Homo sapiens: one gene and its partners. The protein of the gene in region 1 interacts with the protein of each later gene in a pairwise test. Each region holds a gene or a part of one and is shown on either strand. Other genes may lie near its edges. The genes, in order: NUTM1, FAM161A, LMO1, CCHCR1, LMO3, RIC8A and PRKAA2.

What was found.
Region 2: the proteins of NUTM1 (region 1) and FAM161A interact in binary tests that used the Homo sapiens proteins (3 or more experiments, as listed by UniProt).
Region 3: the proteins of NUTM1 (region 1) and LMO1 interact in binary tests that used the Homo sapiens proteins (3 or more experiments, as listed by UniProt).
Region 4: the proteins of NUTM1 (region 1) and CCHCR1 interact in binary tests that used the Homo sapiens proteins (3 or more experiments, as listed by UniProt).
Region 5: the proteins of NUTM1 (region 1) and LMO3 interact in binary tests that used the Homo sapiens proteins (3 or more experiments, as listed by UniProt).
Region 6: the proteins of NUTM1 (region 1) and RIC8A interact in binary tests that used the Homo sapiens proteins (3 or more experiments, as listed by UniProt).
Region 7: the proteins of NUTM1 (region 1) and PRKAA2 interact in binary tests that used the Homo sapiens proteins (3 or more experiments, as listed by UniProt).

What each region holds. Positions count from the first base shown.
Region 1 is NC_000015.10:34,353,315-34,355,774, forward strand, and holds part of NUTM1 (NUT family member 1), read left to right. Parts: intron 1-421; coding exon 422-558; intron 559-1,131; coding exon 1,132-1,418; intron 1,419-1,706; coding exon 1,707-1,823; intron 1,824-2,173; coding exon 2,174-2,460. UniProt on the Homo sapiens protein: Plays a role in the regulation of proliferation. Regulates TERT expression by modulating SP1 binding to TERT promoter binding sites.
Region 2 is NC_000002.12:61,830,061-61,833,560, reverse strand, and holds part of FAM161A (protein FAM161A), read left to right. Parts: intron 1-3,500. UniProt on the Homo sapiens protein: Involved in ciliogenesis.
Region 3 is NC_000011.10:8,229,379-8,232,878, forward strand, and holds part of LMO1 (rhombotin-1), read right to left. Parts: exon of another isoform or gene 3,494-3,500; intron 2,729-3,493; exon of another isoform or gene 2,601-2,728; intron 1,707-2,600; exon of another isoform or gene 1,591-1,706; intron 1,127-1,590; coding exon 913-1,126; intron 901-912; exon of another isoform or gene 183-900; coding exon of another isoform or gene 46-182; intron 1-45. UniProt on the Homo sapiens protein: May be involved in gene regulation within neural lineage cells potentially by direct DNA binding or by binding to other transcription factors.
Region 4 is NC_000006.12:31,144,871-31,147,802, reverse strand, and holds part of CCHCR1 (coiled-coil alpha-helical rod protein 1), read left to right. Parts: intron 1-1,994; coding exon 1,995-2,107; intron 2,108-2,309; coding exon 2,310-2,355; intron 2,356-2,500; coding exon 2,501-2,637; intron 2,638-2,729; coding exon 2,730-2,918; intron 2,919-2,932. UniProt on the Homo sapiens protein: May be a regulator of keratinocyte proliferation or differentiation.
Region 5 is NC_000012.12:16,596,163-16,599,662, forward strand, and holds part of LMO3 (LIM domain only protein 3), read right to left. Parts: intron 2,806-3,500; coding exon of another isoform or gene 2,733-2,805; exon of another isoform or gene 2,630-2,732; intron 1-2,629.
Region 6 is NC_000011.10:213,161-215,613, reverse strand, and holds the end of RIC8A (chaperone Ric-8A), read right to left. Parts: intron 2,316-2,453; coding exon 2,196-2,315; intron 1,385-2,195; coding exon 1,264-1,384; 3' UTR 501-1,263; downstream 1-500.
Region 7 is NC_000001.11:56,713,575-56,715,835, reverse strand, and holds the end of PRKAA2 (5'-AMP-activated protein kinase catalytic subunit alpha-2), read right to left. Parts: 3' UTR 501-2,261; downstream 1-500. UniProt on the Homo sapiens protein: Catalytic subunit of AMP-activated protein kinase (AMPK), an energy sensor protein kinase that plays a key role in regulating cellular energy metabolism.

The DNA of each region.
Region 1 (2,460 bases):
CCCACAATAGCTGTGACTAGACGCGCGTCATCACTCTTGGCTAATTTTTTTGGTATCTTTTGTAGAGATGGGTTTTTGCCGTGTTACCCAGGTTGGTCTCAAACTCTTGGGCTCAAGCAATCTGCCCACCTCAGCCTCCCAAAGTGTTGGGTTTATAGGCATGAGCCACCCCACCTGGCCATTCATTTTCTTAAGCTTCCTAAGTTATGACTATAGGGGAAGGAACTATGTGCTGAGCTCCTGAAGTTTCCCTGGAAATACGATTAAGCCACCTGTGACCACCCTCCTGGGTGACATGACTTAGGCAGACTTTGCCCACCTGAGAGCACTTCCTTTCTTGGCCATGCTTGGCTGTCGTCTGGATTTCTGATGGGTCTGGTCTCCTTCTCAGCATTGCCTATGCCTTTCTCACCCTCTGCAGGTTCATGGAGTTTGAGGCTGAGGAGATGCAGATTCAGAACACACAGCTGATGAATGGGTCTCAGGGCCTGTCTCCTGCAACCCCTTTGAAACTTGATCCTCTAGGGCCCCTGGCCTCTGAGGTTTGCCAGCAGCCAGGTGAGGCTACCCAATTTTGACAGGAGCCGTGGGCCAAAGGCTCAAAGGGATGCATACAGAAGCCAGTCACAGATTAGAGAAGGCATAGCCCAGGCTCTGCCACTTTCCCTCTGGAGAGTGGCATTTGATATTCCAAACAGACCACCCCATAGGAGGCTGGGTTCTCAGGTTCCTTTTGCCCTGAACTAGGTATTGATCTTGGTGAAGTAAACTGACTACTCTCACCGAGACTCTAAATTCAGCACATAATACCTCATCTGCCTAAGAAATGGGGACTGGATTAGGGGGTTTCTTGGAATCTCAGGGATTCCAAAATTCCTCATACAGTGATTCTTAGACCCTCTAGGTCCTAAATCTCCCATGGCTGGCGCTTTTTCAGGTTGGCCCAATCCAGCCTGGAACCATTTCAATGTACCCAGATTGCTGAGCTTACAGAGCTGGGAGGCAGAAGCTGTGGTTTCTGTGCTACTTCCCATTCTCCTGTCCATCTCTTACCTTAGTGTACATTCCGAAGGAGGCAGAATCTGTGGTTTCTGTGCTACTTCCCATTCTCCTGTCCATCTCTTCCCTTAGTGTACATTCCGAAGAAGGCAGCCTCCAAGACACGGGCCCCCCGCCGGCGTCAGCGTAAAGCCCAGAGACCTCCTGCTCCTGAGGCACCCAAGGAGATCCCACCAGAAGCTGTGAAGGAGTATGTTGACATCATGGAATGGCTGGTGGGGACTCACTTGGCCACTGGGGAGTCAGATGGAAAACAAGAGGAAGAAGGGCAGCAGCAGGAGGAGGAAGGGATGTATCCAGATCCAGGTCTCCTGAGCTACATCAATGAGCTGTGTTCTCAGAAGGTCTTTGTCTCCAAGGTGAGCTGGGCCTGCACATCTTGTTTCTAGCAGATCCTTGGGGTGGGTACTCCCGGGAACTAATGATCTGGGGTTTGTCCAATGCAGTAGGACTTAGGTTTTATTCTATAACTGAGTAATGTGTGTGCATGCATCATCATGAGAATGTGTGTAGCCGGTGGTGGTCAGTTTACAATACCGGAGGGGTAAGAGGGGAGAGTTGGGGAGCTCTTAGTTTCTTCTGTAAAGCCCCTTGTTTCACAGGTTACCTGCTTACAGACTTACATCGCTTTTCCTTCTGTTATCCAGGTGGAGGCTGTCATTCACCCTCAATTTCTGGCAGATCTGCTGTCCCCAGAAAAACAGAGAGATCCCTTGGCCTTAATTGAGGAGCTAGAGCAAGAAGAAGGACTCACTCTTGCCCAGGTAAAACTGGGGTATAGGAAATATGAGAACGAGAAGCTTGCAAGATTTTATCTAACCCTACACTGTCGTGGGTGATATGGCTCTAGAGATGAACAGCTTCAGGATTGGGCTTCAGGTGCAGAACGAGTAGGTAGAGGGCTATGGAAACACAGGAAATGAGAATGTAAGGGCTCAAAGCATGGGAATAAGGCACAAGAAGGTGGGAAAGAGCTGCAGTATCTGTCTTTGCTACCATCGCTTAAACTACTTGCTTGCCTTCCTTGCCCTGCCCAAATACCGTCTTGTGCCACCCACTCAGCCACCTCTTTCACAACCACGTATAGAACTGACTATTTGTTCATTTCTTTCAGCTGGTCCAGAAGCGACTCATGGCCTTGGAAGAGGAGGAAGATGCAGAGGCGCCTCCAAGTTTCAGTGGCGCTCAGTTGGACTCAAGTCCTTCTGGTTCTGTTGAGGATGAAGATGGGGATGGGCGGCTTCGGCCCTCACCTGGGCTTCAGGGGGCTGGGGGCGCCGCTTGCCTTGGAAAGGTTTCTTCTTCAGGAAAACGGGCAAGAGAAGTGCATGGTGGGCAGGAGCAAGCCCTAGATAGCCCCAGAGGGATGCACAGGGATGGGAACACTCTGCCATCCCCCAG
Region 2 (3,500 bases), on another chromosome or scaffold:
ACGTCTTTCCATCTTTCTGTTTCCCAGTCAGCTCTATCACAGTTAGATCGGAATTCAGTGTTATAACTTAGTAAACAATGTTAGCAGCTGAGCCCTATATTATTATCATCACATTTCCTTTTTTTTTTTTTTTTTGAGACAGAGTCTCACTCTGTCACCCAGGCTGGAGTACAGTGTCACAATCTCAGCTCACTGCAACCTCTGCCTCCTGGGTTCAAGCCATTCTCCTGCCTCAGCCTCCTGAGTAGCTGGGATTACAGGTGCGCGCCACCGTGCCTAGCTAATTTTTTTGTATTTTTTAGTAGAGACGAGGTTTCACCATGTTGGTCAGGCTGGTCTCGAACTCCTGACCTGATGATCCGTCTGCATTGGCCTCCCAAAGTGCTGGGATTACAGGCGTGAACCACCATGCCTGGCCCATCACATTTCCTTTAAAAAAATTTTTTCTTGTGTTAATAATTACTAATTTTGTTTGGTCCTCCCCCCACCTTCCCTCATTCCCCACCAATGTATGTATCATTATTATTCTTAGGCTTTTCTGTTAGCTCTCAAAAATCCCCCTCAAACAGTTAAACACATTCGTAATTCATCAGTTCCTTTCCTCCCCTGGAGCCCACAAGTGTCCTGCTCCACTTTGGAATGGTTTCTCTCTAGGCCAGCAGTCCTCAACCTTTTTGGCGCTAGAGACTGGTTTTATGGAAGACCATTTTTCCACAGACCAGGGTTGCGTGGGGTGGGGTGGATGGATCGGGAAATGGATCATTTCAGGATGAAACTGTTCCACCTCACATCATCAGGCGTTAGATTCTCATAAGGAGCATGCAACCTAGATCCCTGGCATGAGCACTTCACGATAGGGGTCACCCTCCTATGAAAATCTAACGCTGTAGGAGGCAGGGCTCAGGCCATAATGCTCGCCCTCCCACTGCTCACTTCCTGCTGTGCAGCCTGGTTCCTAACAGGCCACAGACCCGTACCTAGTTCGTGGTAGGGACCCCTGCTCTAGGCCTCTGGCATAAACGACATCTTAGGACTTTTTCACTGTTATACTGGGGAGTAGTTAGATATTAACCTGGATTTATCTACATTTCTTGTATTTCTTTTAAAATCACTGTTATTTTATTCTAGTTCTGGAAGATTTCCTCAAATTTATCTTCCAAATCTGCATTTTTTGCTTACCTAATGAAAAATGACATAATTTCCAGAATGCTTCCCATTTATTAAATATTCCTTTGGTATTTTTCATGGGTGCAGTACGTTTTTTTTTGTTGTTGTTGGTTTTTTGTTGTTGTTGTTGTTGGTTTTTTTTTGTGTGTGTGTGACAGGGTCTTACTCTGTCCCAGGCTGGAGTGCAGTGGCATGATCTCGGCTCACTGCAACTTTAACCCCTTGGGCTCAGGCAATCTTCCCACCTCAGCCTCCCAAGTAGTTAGGACTACAGGCACAAGCTACCATGCCAGGCTAATTTTTGTATTTTTTGTAAAGACAGGGGTGTTACTGTGTTGTCCATGCTGGTCTTAAGCTCCTGGGCTCAAGAAATCCTCCTTTCTCGGCCTTCCAAAGTGTCGGGATTCCAAGTGTGAGCCACCACACCCAGCCTGTCTTTTATATCTCTGAGCATACTGGTGATATTGTCTCTGTTTCCTTCAAGTTCCTTTTTCTCTTTTTTAGCCTCTTGTCTATCATATTAGAAGCTTTCCTCAGATTATCTTTGGTTGTCTGTTTGCATTTAAGAGGGAGACTGCACAAAGCTATTTGGAAGCTGGTTTATAATGTTTTTTGAGAGGTTGCTGAAAGACAAGCACTCCACTAAGCACTTTATATGCATTGTCTTAACTGACCTTTACACTGCTCCTGTGAGGTTCTTATTTCACAGATGAGGGACATCTTGAGGCTTAGATGATACAACCAGAAGAAGGGGAACCAGGATTCAAACCCAGATCTGACTGTCTTCATGTGATTCTTTTATCTATCATATTGTTTTCCTGCCCCCTTCTCAACAAATGCTTTTTGAATATCAGAAAATCCCTTGAGACCCTTAAAGTCAGATAGAAACAAGACAGACAAATGTAGTCATTCAAGACACACAATTGCAGCAATTACAGATGTGTGTTGAGACAAAATTGTGAATATGATTGTTTTGGAGGTTGGGGGAATGGTCAGATTGATATGTTATTTTTTTCTGTTAACCTCAATTCCAGGGAGCAGGTACATAACCTGGGAATACTAATATTTGTGTTAGTGACATGCGAGGCTTGTTCCAACAGGTCTAGAAAAAAAAAAGGAAAGTAAATAAATGCTAAATTAAAGGAATCATTATGGGTGATACTATAATACAAGAAAGAAAGTATGAAGTATTATTTGGGAAGACCAATATTGAACACATATGCAGCAATGATTTATTATAGTGCTGTTTGTCTAAGAAATATCTTTTTTTTTTTTTTTTTTTGAGAAGGCGTCTCACTCTGTCACCCAGGCTGGAGTGCAGTGGCTCGATCTCAGCTCACTGGAACCTCCGCCTCCCGGGTTCAAGTGATTCTCCTGCCTTAGCCTCCTGAGTATCTGTGATTACAGGCGCGTGCCACCATGCCTGGCTAATTTTTTTTGTATTTTTAGTCAAGACGAAGTTTCATCATGTTGGTCAGGCTGGTCTCGAACTCCTGACCTTGTGATCTGCCCACCTCAGCCTCTCAAAGTTCCGGGATTACAGATGTGAACCACCACATCCAGCCAGAAATATCTTTATATTAGAAAAATTAGGCCAGTGACTCACCCTGTAATCCCAACACTTTGGGAAACTGAGGGGGGGAGGATCATTTGAGGCCAAGAGTTTGAGACCAGTGTCTACTGTTCTCATTTTTTTTTTTTTTTTTTTTTGAGACAGGGTCTTACTCTGTCACCCAGGCTGGAGTGCAGTGGCGTGATCTCGGCTCACTGCAACCTCTGCCTCCTGGGTTCAAGTGATTCTCCTGCCTCAGTCTCCTGAGTAGCTGGGATTACAGGTGCACACCACCATGCCCGGCTAATTTTTTTTGTATTTTTAGTAGAGACGGGATTTCACCATGTTGGCCGGGCTGGTCCTGAACTCCTGACCTCAAGTGATCCACCTGCCTCGGCCTCCCAAAGTACTGGGATTACAGGAGTGAGCCACCGTGCCTGGCCTACTGTTCTCATCTTCATATCTGTGTGTACCCAGTTCCTCCCCATTCAGCTGGTCATTGAGAGACCTGTCAAATTTTCTTCCTAAATAATTTTTGGATCTGCCCTTCACCATCCTTGGTGGTGAAATGCCAGGTGGAACCTTTATTTCCTATCTGAATCATAATAGTTTGATTGATTTTTCTGCCTTGCTCTTTGCAGAACCATTCATTATACCTTCGCCTTACCATTTTCATTCCCCTACTAAAATGTTAACCCTGGGTAGACAATTAATAAGCCTTTATAACAGGGACAATCATCCATTCTCACCAATTCCATTTATTCTCATTTTCAATGAATGA
Region 3 (3,500 bases), on another chromosome or scaffold:
GCCCAGACCTGGGCAGAGGGAGCCCCATGAAGCCCTTGCCCCGACCTGTTAATTAATGCGATGAGCCCTCCTTCCCCACAAGCCCGGCAACCATCCAGCAGCCTGCGACAGAGCCAAATGCAGGTGCTGGGTCTCAGCCAAGGCCCTGCTTTGTGGCCTCCTTCCAGCCTTGCTGATGTCATAAATGGCCTCAGGGAGGGTTAATTGGGGGAGGTGGCCCCAGGGAATAGGATCCAAATTGTAGGGAGGGTGAGTTAGAGCTCAGAGGAATGCAAGGCAGGGAAGCATCATTCTTTCACCCTTCACGGGGAAGTAAACTGAGGCTGGGAGAAGATTAGGAGCCAAAGGCTCACAGCTAGTTCCAACCCAGGTCTTGAAGCTCCAGCATCAGTGGCCCTGCTCCTAGGATATGGCTGCCTGCCAGTTTCCCTGGGCAAATGGATGCCTGCTCCCAAGGACCATCTAGAAAGGAAAGTTGGACACTGGGAGATGGAAAGAGACTGCATTAGGGAGGAGGGTCCTGGGGAAGTCAAAGCTTCCACACCTGTTCTCAAAGCCCCTCTGAGGTATCCCCTCCCAGATTCCAGATCAGGTGGGTCAGAAGCACCTGGCCAAGGCAGGGGGGCGGAGCCAGACTGGGGCCCTCGGAAAGCTTAACTTAGGGGCCCCAGGTTACAAATGCCTGCCCTGGACTTGTGCTGGGTACCGAGTCCAAGGGCATAACGACCTGGGCCTTCCCCTCAGGTGACTTCTCAGGTATCTGGGGCAAGCAGGGCAGGGGCAGGACAGTCAAGAATGAGAGGACACACAGGGTACTGGGTCTAGGGCCGGGGGCACAGTCACGCTGGGGCTGAGGATGGGGAGCTTTCTGAGCAGGACAAGGGCTTGGGAGGCCAGGGTTTGGCAGCCCACCTCAGGTAGTCGCGTCGGCACAGGATGAGGTTGGCCTTGGTGTAGAGGGTGGAGCCCACCTCGCCCAGGCGGCAGTCACAGCAGGCACACTTGAGGCAGTCTTCGTGCCAGTACTTGTCCAATGCCTTCAGCAGATAGCGGTCCTTGATCTTGCGGTTACAGCCCGCACAGCCCTTCTGCTTCCCTTTGGGCTGGACGGAGAGCATCGGCACGCCTGCAGACGGACAGACAGACAGCAACGCAGGATGGGCCCCGTAGCTCTGGGCCTCAAGGAATATCCCCCAAGAATGGGGAGCTCACTGCTTCTCTCTGCTGCCCCCTCTAGGTTTGGGGCTCCCAGGAGCCCTCGCTTTCTCCCCAATAACCTCCTCCCCTGGCTCCGGGTCCTGCCCTTTGGGCTACATGGCACAGCCTGTTTCCCTGGCCCTGTGAAGGTCCCTCCAGAGGCTGCTCTGCTCCAAGGCACACACAGACCCCAGGCCTGGCCTCCCTGAGTTGTTCCTCCCTACCATGGCCTCTATCCCCTGTGCGGTCTCATCCGGAGTAAGCCTGAAGCTCGTCTTGTGAAGCCACCATCACATTGGCTCTTTCAGCAATAAGCCTAAGAAATGTAGTCTCCTCAGGCCCACGAGGTCCTCTAGAACCCCCAGATCTTTGTGCCAACTCGTCTTTCTCCAGCTGAAGTGCTACAGCCTCTTGGTCTATCCATGTAGAGCTGTGATGGCATCAAGAAGGAAGTGAGACGCCCCTGGGACACTCCCAGGAGGGAGCAGAGGCTCTGGGGCTCCTGGCAGGTAAGCGGAGGCAGCTGGCAGGGCCTGGCTGGGGCTCCCCTTGGGAATGCTTCAGGCGGTGTCACACCTCACCTGCCCTGGCCTGGGGGAGGGCAGGCTCTGAGCCTCTGGATCCTTCCTCATTCTACCAGGATTAGGATCTCTCAGCCATCAGTCCCTCCCAGGGCCCATACCAGCTTCCCAACATACACACAGGCACCAAGTACAAAGGGCCCAATGTGATGTTCACCACAGGGCAGAGCCTCCCGTCGCGGCAGGCGAGCATGTGCGCTCACACACACCCCTCACACACAGGCACGACGTGCAGGTGTGGGCATGAAGTGACAGAGGCACGGGTTCCTAGTCCCTTCTCCTGGAACCACAGGGACCGTTGAGGAGGAGATGGGGACATATGTCGTCCAGTAGCCTGGACATCCATGTGGACCCGTGAGGCTGGGAGGGAAGTGCAGAGGACCTCAGAAGCCCTGCTCTGTGACTTGACAGGGCGGGAGCCTGTGGCAGTTGCCTGAGAACCCTTGTGAAGACAGGGAGCGTGTGCATGCTCCGTTCCTGACCAAGGCGCAGCTGGATAGGGGCCCACCCCTCCCCACCTCCCCGGCTTTCCAACACTCCCCTGGAGTCTGTCCTTCTACTGGCCCCGTCCTCTCCAAAGGACCCCTGCTCTCTCCAGGGCTCTGGCCTTCCTCCCATCCCCTGGTGTCCCTCCCATTCCCAGCCCTCCTCACTGCCCCCAGCCCAGAGTCTGAATGGTTGGGCTGCTTCCCTTCCTTTTGCTTCTCTCCTCCTTGGGCGTTAGGGGAGAACAAGCCACAAGAGGCCTTGGTCTCAGAATCCACAGATGTAAGGTCAGAAGAGCCCTCAGAGTTCTCCCAGTTAAATGTTCTCATACTACAGATGGGGAAATTGAGGCTCAGACAGTTACAGGGGCTTGAGTCAGCCACCGTCAAGCTGGCCCCAGGGCTCCTTCTCCTCTCCTGTGCTCGCTCTCAGCCCAGCTGGCTCCTCAGACTTCTCCTGGACAGGTGAGTCTGGGGAGCTGGCGCCCACCCACAGGCTACAGTGTGCAGGGCCAGTGGCTCCCTCCTCCTTCTCCTCCCTGCAGTCCCGGCAGGGCCTGTCTGTTAGCTGGTGAGTGTGCTGCCTAATTTCCTTAATGCAGCTCTAAAGGTTAATTGGTCTGAGAGAGGGATGGGGCACAGGATGACTCTGTCCTCGGGCCTGCCTGTGTCTCTTCTAGCAGGGCCCAGCCTGGCACAGAGCTCTGAAAGAGCCCAAGGAGGGCAGCTGGGGAGCAGATACCCCTGAGAACTGAAGGGGTCTTGTGAGGCTCCTTCCAAGTCCTGGCCTACAGGGAGGTGTGGGGAAATGGGAGAGGAGTTAAAATAGCTGGATGGGGAAATGAGGGGCCTCCCAGAGTGGGACCTGGACCAGGGTAGGGCTCCAAGGGCATGACCTTGTCCTTAGGCCCTGTGCAGGGAGCATGCAGCCAGCAGAGGTACGCACTCAAACACCGACTGGGAAAATCTTGGGCCAGGCCCCCGCTACAGCCCCTACAAGGCTCACGTTCCTTTTGCTCAGCCAGGCTTGCAGCAGGCCTGGCTCCCTTCCCAGTGGTCCTGAGCCCCTCCCAGGGCTCTATATTTGGGCTATTACCAGAACATGGGTGAATGGCTGGAACCTCCGTACTCAGGGGAGACCCTAGCCCACTAAATTATAGCCCAAAATGAAGGGAGACAGTGAGAGGCCCCAGCACGTGAAGCAGCTGTCCCACTCTCTCTTCCATCTACCCTGGCT
Region 4 (2,932 bases), on another chromosome or scaffold:
TAGGGACGGGGTTTCACCATGTTGGCCAGGCTGGTCTTGAACTCCTGACCTCAGGTGATCCACCCACCTCAGCCTCCCAAAGTGCTGGAATTATAGGTGTGAGCCACTGCACCTGGCCTAGTCTATTTATTTAAAGCTATATACTTACTTGCTTATTATATACTTAACTTGCTTACTATTCCATCTAAAATGTAAGCCAGTTAGTTTCCTTCTAAATCAATTGCCAGCCTTTGTCTCTCCTACCAACTTCCTAGTTGTTTCATTACCTACAATTGTTGTATGACCTTCAGAAAAACCTCTAAGAAAACAGCAAAGCTTCTTTGTGCTGGTGATGACTTCCCCTCAGCCTTAGACACTGAGGTACCCAAGGCAGGTAGTTCTTTTTTTTTTTTTTTTTTTTTTTGAGACAGAGTCTCGCACTGTCACCCAGGCTGGAGTGCAATGGCACGATCTCAGCTCACTGCAACCTCTGCCTCCCGGGTTCACACGATTTTCCTGCCTCAGCCTCCTGAGTAGCTGGGATTACAGGTGCACACCACCACACCCGGCTACTTTTTTGTATTTTTAGTAGAGACAGGGTTTCACTGTGTTGGCCAGGCTGGTCTCAAACTTCTGACCTCGTGATCCGCCCGCCTCGGCCTCCCAAAGTGCTGGGATTACAGGCTTGAGCCACCGTGCCTGGCCGGCAGGTAGTTCTTAGCACAGTCTCTGGCTTGTAAATGTTTATTGTTATCGTGAGGCTCTTCTTGATGGGTTAATTTAGATAAAGATAATTTTTGGTTTAGCGAAATTAAGATGCAGGATGAGTCCTTGCCCATCACTTCCTTCTCTTGGATTTGTACCTTAGGGACTAATTTAGCTTTAAAAATTATGAAAAATTTCAAACTTGCACGGAATTAAACTAGTTATAATGACCTACCACCCAGGTTCAATCCATCGCGGGTGCCCCCTACCTCCAGGAGAACAGAAAGATGCACTGTGGACAGGGTTTGACTTTGGTACCAGGCGATCACAGAAATGGTCTGTGTAATGATGCATTTGCCGAAAGTCCTCCAGGCTTAAAGCAGTCCAAACTCTGATTGTTGCTGGGTTTATTAGATTGTCTCTAGGTAATTGGAGACTTTAATAAGGGCTGTGGTAGGTGTTGGAAGCATCTACTGGAACAATTTCCAGATCAAAGTGAACTTTGCTGTGCTGCTGGGGATGCAGCTGCAAGCCTTCATCATCATGTGTTTTTCTGTGGGTGCAGACCTGGACTCTCCTGAGGAAACCCCAGCCCGGCCCCAGACACTCCTTGGCCTCCTCCTGGGGCCTGTTTAAGCTGCTCAGTTTTCATGAGCCAGGTTGGTCCTACTTCTGGCACAGCCAGCTGGTAAAGCATGTGGACCTGCCCGTCATTGGTGCTAGATCGACACTCCTGGGCTTGGAGAGGATAACTTTGTTTTCTTTTGTTTTTTTGAGATGGAGTCTCGCTCTGTCACCCAGTCTTGAGGGCAGGGGTGCGATCTTGGCTCACTGGAACCTCCACCTCCTAGGTTCAAGTGATTCTCGTGCCTCAGCTTCTGGAGTAGCTGGGATTACAGGCATGAGCCACCATGCCCGGCTAATTTTTGTGTTTTTAAGTAGAGAGAGTTTCACCATGTTGGCCAGGCTAGTCTCCAATTCCTGACTTCAGGTGATCCGCCCGCCTCGGCCTCCCAAAGTGCTGGGATTACAGGCAGGAGCCACTGCCCCTGATCAGAGAGGATAACTTTACTCTTTGATACACGATAGTGAGCAAAACACAGTTGTGAGAAATAAGCTTAACAGGTTGCTTAAAAAGATAGTCATTTAATGCATTCTTGGGGCAAGGGTCCTTTAGATAATTGACGGAAGCTGTGCGTTCTGTACTTGTATAATGGGACAGGATTAGAGGGAGTTGTCTATACAAGGCACAGCAAGTCCTTTGGGAATGAGGGGAGGCATGGAGGATCAGTGACTTGTGCCCTCTCCAGCTCTCAGATCTGGCTCGAGACCACCATGGCTAAGGTGGAAGGGGCTGCCGCCCAGCTTCCCAGCCTCAACAACCGACTCAGCTATGCTGTCCGCAAGGTCCACACCATTCGGGGTGCGTAGGACAACTGCGAGCCACGTCCTGCCCCCACCCCACCAGCTCGGACTTTCTTCTTCCTGACCCAGCTCTCTCTGATCCCACATCCATTCACCTTCCTCCTTTCACCAGTCCTTGCATCTCTTTTTCCCTTACTCCCTGTCCCCACTTTCTCCCATGCAAACTTCATCTCTTTTTCTCCCTGCTTTTTCCCCTCCAGGCCTGATTGCTCGAAAGCTTGCCCTTGCTCAGCTGCGCCAGGAGAGGTGAAGTTTGGGCACTTTGAGGTGGATGGGGCTTTAGGGCATTGGCTGCTGGGACCCCCAAAACCATGAGGACTGAGGTGGGATGGGGGCTTTGGGATCAGGCAGCTGGGTGATTTCTTCTGACTCTTTCTCTTCCCCGTCCCAGCTGTCCCCTACCACCACCGGTCACAGACGTGAGCCTTGAGTTGCAGCAGTTGCGGGAAGAACGGAACCGCCTGGATGCAGAACTGCAGCTGAGTGCCCGCCTCATCCAGCAGGAGGTGGGCCGGGCTCGGGAGCAAGGTACACCTGGTTGCCAGGGGGTGGAGAGGATGAGGAAAAACCCGGTGTCTAGGGTGCTGGGAGAGGCCTGACCCAGCACCCCCTCCTTTTAGGGGAGGCAGAGCGGCAGCAGCTGAGCAAGGTGGCCCAGCAGCTGGAGCAGGAGCTGCAGCAGACCCAGGAGTCCCTGGCTAGCTTGGGGCTGCAGCTGGAGGTAGCACGCCAGGGCCAGCAGGAGAGCACAGAGGAGGCTGCCAGTCTGCGGCAGGAGCTGACCCAGCAGCAGGAACTCTACGGGCAAGGTGTCGAGAGGGAA
Region 5 (3,500 bases), on another chromosome or scaffold:
TTATTTTCTCTTTTAGAGTTATTATATTATTATATTAAAGCCTATAAAATTTGTAGTCAGCATAGCAAGCTTCAAATCATTTTAGTTAATTAGCAACTATGGTGAAGCATGAAGCATCACTCTTTCCCAGTAGTTTCATTTTAAACAAATCATCCTCACGTATAAAAATAGCAAATTGCATTAAATTTTATATAAGACATTTTACAGCTTCTTATATAGGAAAAGCTATAAGCAGCTTCCATGGCACATACCACAGCAAACAGCTTTGAATAAACTCTGGCAAGATATCATTCATAGAGATACAAGATACATACAGCCTATATAGACTTAATGCTTAAAGTACGTCACAAAAAGTTGCAGGTTCAAAGAAAGAACAACAAAAAAATTGCCCAGAAGTTGAGTTCCAGTTACATTCTGACATCCTTTATTGCCTTCAAGTTGAAAAAGAAAGTATTTTGGTATTTCTCCTAGTTCTATTTAATGCTTGCTGCAAAACATTAAATAAAAGCATGTAGAATTCCTAATTCTAAGACTCTGATTATGCACTGGCTGGCTACTTTATTCATATTTTTTCAAACTGAAATAAGGCGGATAGATCGCAGTGATGAGTACCTTAAACATTATCACTACAACTTTGCTATTTTTACACAGTCATTTTTAATCTACTTTAGACAATATCAATTTTAAGCTCCAACTTAAAGTACAAAGATGTTTCTATATCTAATTTGTCATAAGTTACTCTTCAAAAAAATAAAAATAATTATAAATGCATTGGATAGATTTTTAACAGATACATTTCTTGGTCTGCCTGGCATATAAATATTGACTGGGTAGATTTCATAATTTCAGTCAGAAACATGTTAGAGGAAGTTTTAAAAAGTCAGTCCTTCTCTTTCTTTAGCTAATGAGTTTCCAAAGGAGGAAAGCAATCCCACAAATGGGCAAATTCTGTCTCATCAGATATGTACATTTTATGTTCCACAGCTAAATGAATGATATGCCAGTCCAGTTCTGGAAAGTGAAAAATTCCACTGTTAAGATTTGATACTTAGTGTACAAACTATGGAAGATTTTTCTTTCTTTTTCTCTTAAATATAGCTACTAGTGCCATAAAGGAGAAAAAAAATGGAAAGACATCAAATTTTCCATAATAATAGTTTCTATAACCCTTAAGAAAATATCTTACAGTCTAAATTATTATATTTTCATATTATTTAATATCTCAAATCATCATTCAAAGAACTTATAAATCACATCATCATTATCACTACTCAAAGTAACACAAGTAAAACACAGATCTTTAAGTCTCATTGCTCATAATTAGGAGTGTTTCTTTCTTTCTGTTTATGGAGGGAGAAGTGTATTAAGAAGCTAAATGTAATTGGCAAAAATATTTTACTTTTCACTGTATGTAAAAAATTATCTGGCCCAGGACAATACTTGTAACCAACAATATATGTGGACAGGCAAATTACTATTTTATTACTTTCCTTATTCTTACTTATGTTCTTAATAATTTAGACATGAAATATAAATATGTAAGTTATTTATGTTCAGTTTGGTGCCTCAGAGAAATTACATAATATCAAAGGGCCAAAAATAAAACAACTTTTAAAATAGAACTTAAGTGATTAAACATTGGTTATATAAAATACAAAATGGAAGTATGCTGAATTTGGAGGAAAATGAGAAAAATTACTTTTAAAGCTCAGGAAAATAACCACAGAATATTACTTGTTCACTGATTATATTACAGATTCTATGTAATTAAATAAACAATTAGATAGTGGCAACTTTAGGTGTACCTTCCTTTTTCCTTTAGCTAATTTCACCCATTGCCTGAAATCATACCTCTCACACAGTAAGCATTTAATAAACATTTTTGAACAACTATTTGTATCTAATCAAAGAAATTAATTTGTAAATAAAATCTGCTTGACTATATTTGTTGATTTACCATACAGAATCAGACTATTTTAATTTGCCAATCAGAGACATATGCAGTTGAACATCTACACAATTTCACTGAGACACATGCTTTCCACATAAAACTAAATACCACATCTGCGGCATAATCTATAACACGTAACACAGTGTTTTACACACACCAATTCTCCACTTCACTTCTGCAATTTTAAGTGTTGATGAAGTTGCCAAATAAGTCACATTATATACAACAAACTTTCAGTTTAAATAAGGGACAAGATTGCTGTTAACAACTTAGTTTGAAATGTTAACAACCGTTAGGCTGTTAACATAACAACTGGCCATTAATGTGGTAATGACCAATTTAAGCGGAAATCGTACTCTGAGAAATGAATATATTGGCAATCAGGACCAGGGTTTATATTTGAAAGAATATTATATACTTTTAATAAGTTAACCACCATTAAAAGTTTGAGCCTATCAGGAGGTAACTGAAAGTTATTCTACAAAAAGCCACATACACTCTTATAGAGATACAAAAACTTCTGATATGAAAACTATTTTTGATAAATGCGTTTTAGCAAAACACTTGAGACTATCAAATATATTTTTACTACCACAAGGAAAAAGAAAACAAAACAAATCTAAGATTACTGTCTTTGCTCGATGCTATGTTGACAGCTAAGAAGCATGTTATACTCACAATATAGGTATTTCCTTGGCAAATTTTTATTTTTGTTTTCAAAAACCCCAGATATTTCAGTTGACATTCTTTCAAGTTTACTTAATTTTTGTCCTTTGGTTTATTAAAACACCTTAACATTGCCCGGGCTATATAAACTCCTTATTTGAAATGGTAACATAAATCCACTTGAGATACTGAAATTACAAACAAATGTAAAAGTCAAAAGGAGTCAAAAAGCTATGACTATTGGTTAGTACAGATAAAGCAAAACTAAAAAGCAGTATTAAATCACTAAAAGCAAATACAAATGCTTTATGTGGAAATGAGGCTCTAATTCACAATGGGCAGAAGAGAAATTTTTATTTCAAAGAGGAAAGTTCAAAGACCGGAGAGTTCTAAAAAAATGAACATTGTACATTAATTTTGATTCGTTGTGCCAACACAATGAGGGAAATCCTGGCTGGAGAGAGTGACTTCTCATTGTTGGCACCTTGCATGTGTTTTACGCACTTGGAACACAGAGAAGTAGTAACAAGTGGCCATAATTAGTCAGGAGGCTGTCAGATGAGGCCGTCCTAAGAGCGAGAAGGAGTAGAATCTGATAAACAGTACCGCTTTCACCCTCTTGTAACTACCATTAATCAAATGATATATTTTTATATCTAAAGATTGGATCTGACTGAAAATAGCTGAATTATATACTAAGAACGACCAAATTCCCTAGAAAACACCTCATCAAATGACCAAGGTACTAAAGGAGTTACCATTGATTGATAAATTTTGTCATAAGGGAAAAAATTCCAAATAAATCGCTTAATGTCAGACCAGAAAAATGATAAATTGTATTAAATATGAAAATCCCAATGATGCCATATATCATTTCTCTAAT
Region 6 (2,453 bases), on another chromosome or scaffold:
AGACAAAAGCACTTCCCATTCTTGAACCTTGCCTACCCTGGGCTGAGCTGACGGCAATAGATTTAATGACAGTGACTCCCAGGAAGGGGGTCCTGTGACTTTGCGCCTTAATAAGAACAAAAGGTGGAATTGGTGACCTAGGAAAACTGTTGAATTCTAAAAAGAATGAAGTTAGTTTCTAACCCTAGTTAATGTTCCTTTTTTATTTTTTGAGTCTTGCCCTGTCACTCAGGGTGGAGTGCGGTGTTATGATCTCAGCTCACTGCAACTTCCGCCTCCCGGGTTTAAGCGATTCTCCTGGGTAGCTGGGATTACAGGTGTGTCCCACCACACCTAGCACATGGGCATATTTGTAATAGAGACAAGGTTTTGCTATGTTGGCCAGGCTGGTCTCGAACTCCTGGCTTCAAGTGATCCACCCACCTCGGCCTCCCAAAGTGCTGGGATTACAGGCATGAGCCACTGTGCCTGGCCCCTTTATTTGATAATTTACACATACATTTTTGTCCAAAACTCTTCTTTATTTCAAGATGATGTTTCTGTGGCTATGTGTGGTATGTGGTATAAATCTCAATCTATGGTCACACGAGGGGCATTTTCCTTGTTGTAAGTGTAGTCTAAACCAGTAGGAAGGAGGTTTAATTGCCAAAACCAGCGAGAACTCGGGCACTGTGGATACTACAGTGGGCAGCTGAACGAGGACCAAGGAGAATGTCTAAGAGGCCTCCAGCCCTGCGCTCAGTGAAGACAGGACAGGAACAACAGAGCATACATACCTTGGAAGGGTGTGTTCTGATATACTCGTATGGAAAGTTCTGACAGGTTTTCTCCCTGGGAAGTGCAGCACATACCCCAACACACTGGCTCTGCCAGTGTGCCAATCCCAGATGGTGCTTGCTTTGTGTGCACCCACACCCAAACCCCTGCCCTCCCATATGCTCTTCTGTGTGCCCAGGTAGGCCCTGCCCTCAGGCAGCAGCTTCTGAACACATTCCTCTTGGCGCAGACAAAAGAAAGTACTTCGTCTGTGGAATTCGAGGCTGAGCCTGAGTTCTAGCACAAGAAGACCGTTGCAGTCCAGAGATGAGAAACTGGACCAGAGGCAAATCATGAACAGAACGGGAGTCAAGAGAAGGGGTTTCTAAGATGGAGAAGTGGGGGCGGGTGTGGATCCAGTGGGATGTGGCTTCCCCAGGTTGCAACCCCAAGGAAGTCTCTGGAAGCAGCACCAGTCCTGATGGGGGAGCAGAAGAGCTGCCATCCTCAGTCAGGGTCCGAGTCAGGGTCCGAGGAGAGCTGCTGCTCCATAGTCTCGCACATGGCATCCTGCAGGGACGTAAGATGACCCCGGGGACTCATCCCCATTGGCTGGATGACTCTGTTCCTGTTGGGGAAAGGTGCAGTGGGGCTGGGGAAGGGGCCCAGTTGGCCAGGCAGGGGTCCTACTCACCCGTGGCTGCTACCTTCCTCTCTACCAAGTAGGCTGCTCCCATTTACTGGGGAAGCCTGGTTGGACCTTCTGTTAACTGGGCCCAAACCCTAACTGCTGCCTCCTGGCTTTAAGCAGTTTCCTATTTTAAACATCTAAATTGGCCTTAAGCAGGCTCTTAATTTGGACACTGGGCCATCTCCAATAAATCTGGCGACATTAGTCTCTTTTTTTTTTTTGAGACGAAGTCTCACTCTGTTGCCAGGCTGGAGTGCGGTGGCACAATGTCAGCTCACTGCAAGCTCTGCCTCCTGGGTTCAAGTGATTCCCCTGCCTCAACCTCCCGAGCAGCTGGGACTACAGGCGCCCACCACCACGCCCAGCTAACTTTTTTTTTGTATTTTAGCAGAGATGGGGTTTCACCATGTTGGCCAGGATGGTCTCGATCTCCTGACCTTGTGATCTACCTGCCTCAGTCTCCCAAAGTGCTGGGATTATAGGCGTGAGCTACCACGCCCGGCCTTAGACAGTCTCTTAATTTCTCTGGGCCTCAGTTATCATCTGTAAAAGGGGCACAATACTGATCTCAATATACCCATCCCCTGGGGGATTTCCTCCAGGGCAAGTGATTTCAAACGTGAGCAATGCAACCTAATACCAGGATCCTAAGCTCTCCTCTGATCCTACCTCCTGGGGCTCACAAGACAGGATGTGGGTCAGCTCTCCCTTCTCCCAGCTGCAGGCCCCTCCTCCTCATGCCACACACCTGGAGAGCTTGTCAAACATGGTCACCAGCTTCATGGCCTCGTGCTCCTTCTGCTCCTCTGTCATGCCCTCCATAGGGTTAGGCGGCTTCTCCTCCACCCTCCCGGTCACAGGGTTTATGCTGTTTCCCAGTGGGTGGAATGTGGGGAATGCATTAGTGACTCTCCAGGACAGGAGGCAAGCCACCTATTTTCCCAGTGGGGTGAGGTGGGCAAGGCAACTGCAGGAAGAGGCCTCCCTCCAGAAGCGGCACAGGTAA
Region 7 (2,261 bases), on another chromosome or scaffold:
CTTGTTGCTGGTTTTGAAGATGAAGGGAGCCAAGGGCCAAGGGATGATGGCCTCTAGAAGCTTTAAATGATTCCTAGCCAACAGCCAAAAAGGCAACAGGGACCTCAATCCTACAGCACCATGGAATGAAATTCTGCCAACAACTCAATGCAACTGGAAACAGATTCTCCTCCACAGCCCAGCCCTATCAATGCTTTGGTTTTCAGCTTGTGTGACTTGAGGCAGAAAAACCAGCTAAGCCTGCTGGGTTTCTAACATATAGAACAATAAAATAATTTGTATTTTAAGTCGTTAAGTTTGTAGTAATTTGTTACAGCAACAGTAGAAAACCAATGCAATAACTCAAGTTAAAAACTATAATGTACAACTAAGATGACAAAAATGAAAAAAGATGGTGTGAAATCACCAATGAGTATAGGCAATCTTTTCCACTAACAACTTTCCTGTAACTATTAGTTGGTGTGCAGAATACCAGCATAATGATGGAGCAGAAACAAAAATAGCTTTCAAATGAATCAGAGACTTTTAATTTGATTTTGTGAAAAAAGCTTATAAGCAATCAGACAGGCTGCTTTTCTCCTTTGTGTTTGTTACCTATGAGTTTCATATGGTGCAAACATTAATTAGGAAGAATCTGTAACTATGAAATGCTATGTAATTCAGGAAGACATCTTTTCCATATGGTTAATGAAAGACAAATCCTTCCCATATCATTTAACACTCACAAAAAGTATATAACAAACAAAACTGAAATTTGAATCGGAGTTTATTTGAACAGAAAAGCACTGGAAGTCTGTTCATTTTTTTTTCTTGAAACCAATTATAAAAAGTGGTCCCAATTTCAACAATTAAAAAAAATTTTCAATAAATACGTAATGAAGTACTTCAATGGGTCAATGTATCAACCTATGGATTTTTTTTTCTTTTTCAAAGGTATGCTAAGAATGAATGAATGCAGGATGTTTTTGAAAAAAAGTAAATATTATATCCTATATTATGATTGTCATGACACAACCAAATGGCTGTTTTCAGTTTTATTTGTTGCATTCAAAATCCACTGTATATTTAAGCATACATGACAAAGAACACAACCATTCTTCCTAAAACAATAAAGATACTATCCTTAGAGTTCACAGTTCTACAACAACTTTACATTAAATGTTCAAAACATTGTACAACCACAGATATTTGTGAACAGTCTTGAGAGCTGTATTTTGGTACATTAAGGCAGCTTCAGCCAACATTTTAAGAGATTCTGAATATTTGTTACAACACAGGACAAGTTTGATATTTGAATACTTGAGGTCTCAAGAAATATTAAATGTCACCTAACAACACCACAATTTGTGAAACTGTGATCTTACCTAAAAATCAAGATACTCATCCTATCAGTATCAAAGATACTTATTTTTTTTAAAAAAAGGAATTTACATTGAATGTGGGGATATAAACCCTGTATTTAAACAAGGGCTTTCAAACAGTTGCTCACACACATCTGTGAGGTAGGTTATTATCCACATTTTGTAAATCAAAAAACTAAATGAGGTTACGTGACTTGCTGCTGCTTCAGCAGCCAAAGGAAGAAACTGATTCCAAGTTAGATTTTGTTCTTAGCTCTGAGTTGTTTCCTTGACAAACTTTTTAAAGGGTTAAAATATAAAAACTGCCATTCATCAAATTCATTTATAAAGCATGAGAAGGTAGCCAAATGTTATGTTTACCAAGGTGACTTATAAAGTCAATCAACATGAAAGAAATAGGAAAATACATTTAGTGAACAACTTCTGATAGTGATAGGGAGAGGTTTGACCAAGGGAACTCAATCAGGCAGATGCAAACAACATGATCATTTGTAGGAGGCAGATCTAAGGAGAACTGAGAGGGATTAGAAAAAAAGAAAATATAGTTTAAACAAGTTTTTACTATTACTCTTCTTATAATTTAAGGGAGAAGGCACAATTTAGTGTTTTTTTTTTTTTTTTTTTTTAGAACAGTGGATCTCTCTTCCACTTTAGGAAAATGTTATCTGTCTAGAAAAATGGCCATTTTTGGTAGCAAAACTTAAATGTGTAACTGTGAAAAATGCACGTTTAAATTAGTAGAAAAAAAAATAACAATGCAATTCTCCTTGGCTAGAATGTTTTTGTTCCTCCTTGAAATTTTAAATCAACACAACGTAGCAACCCTCCCTGCCCACCTCAGAAAAGGTCACACTGTATGCACTGTATGAACCTTGTCAAAATTCTACGTATTATTCAAAA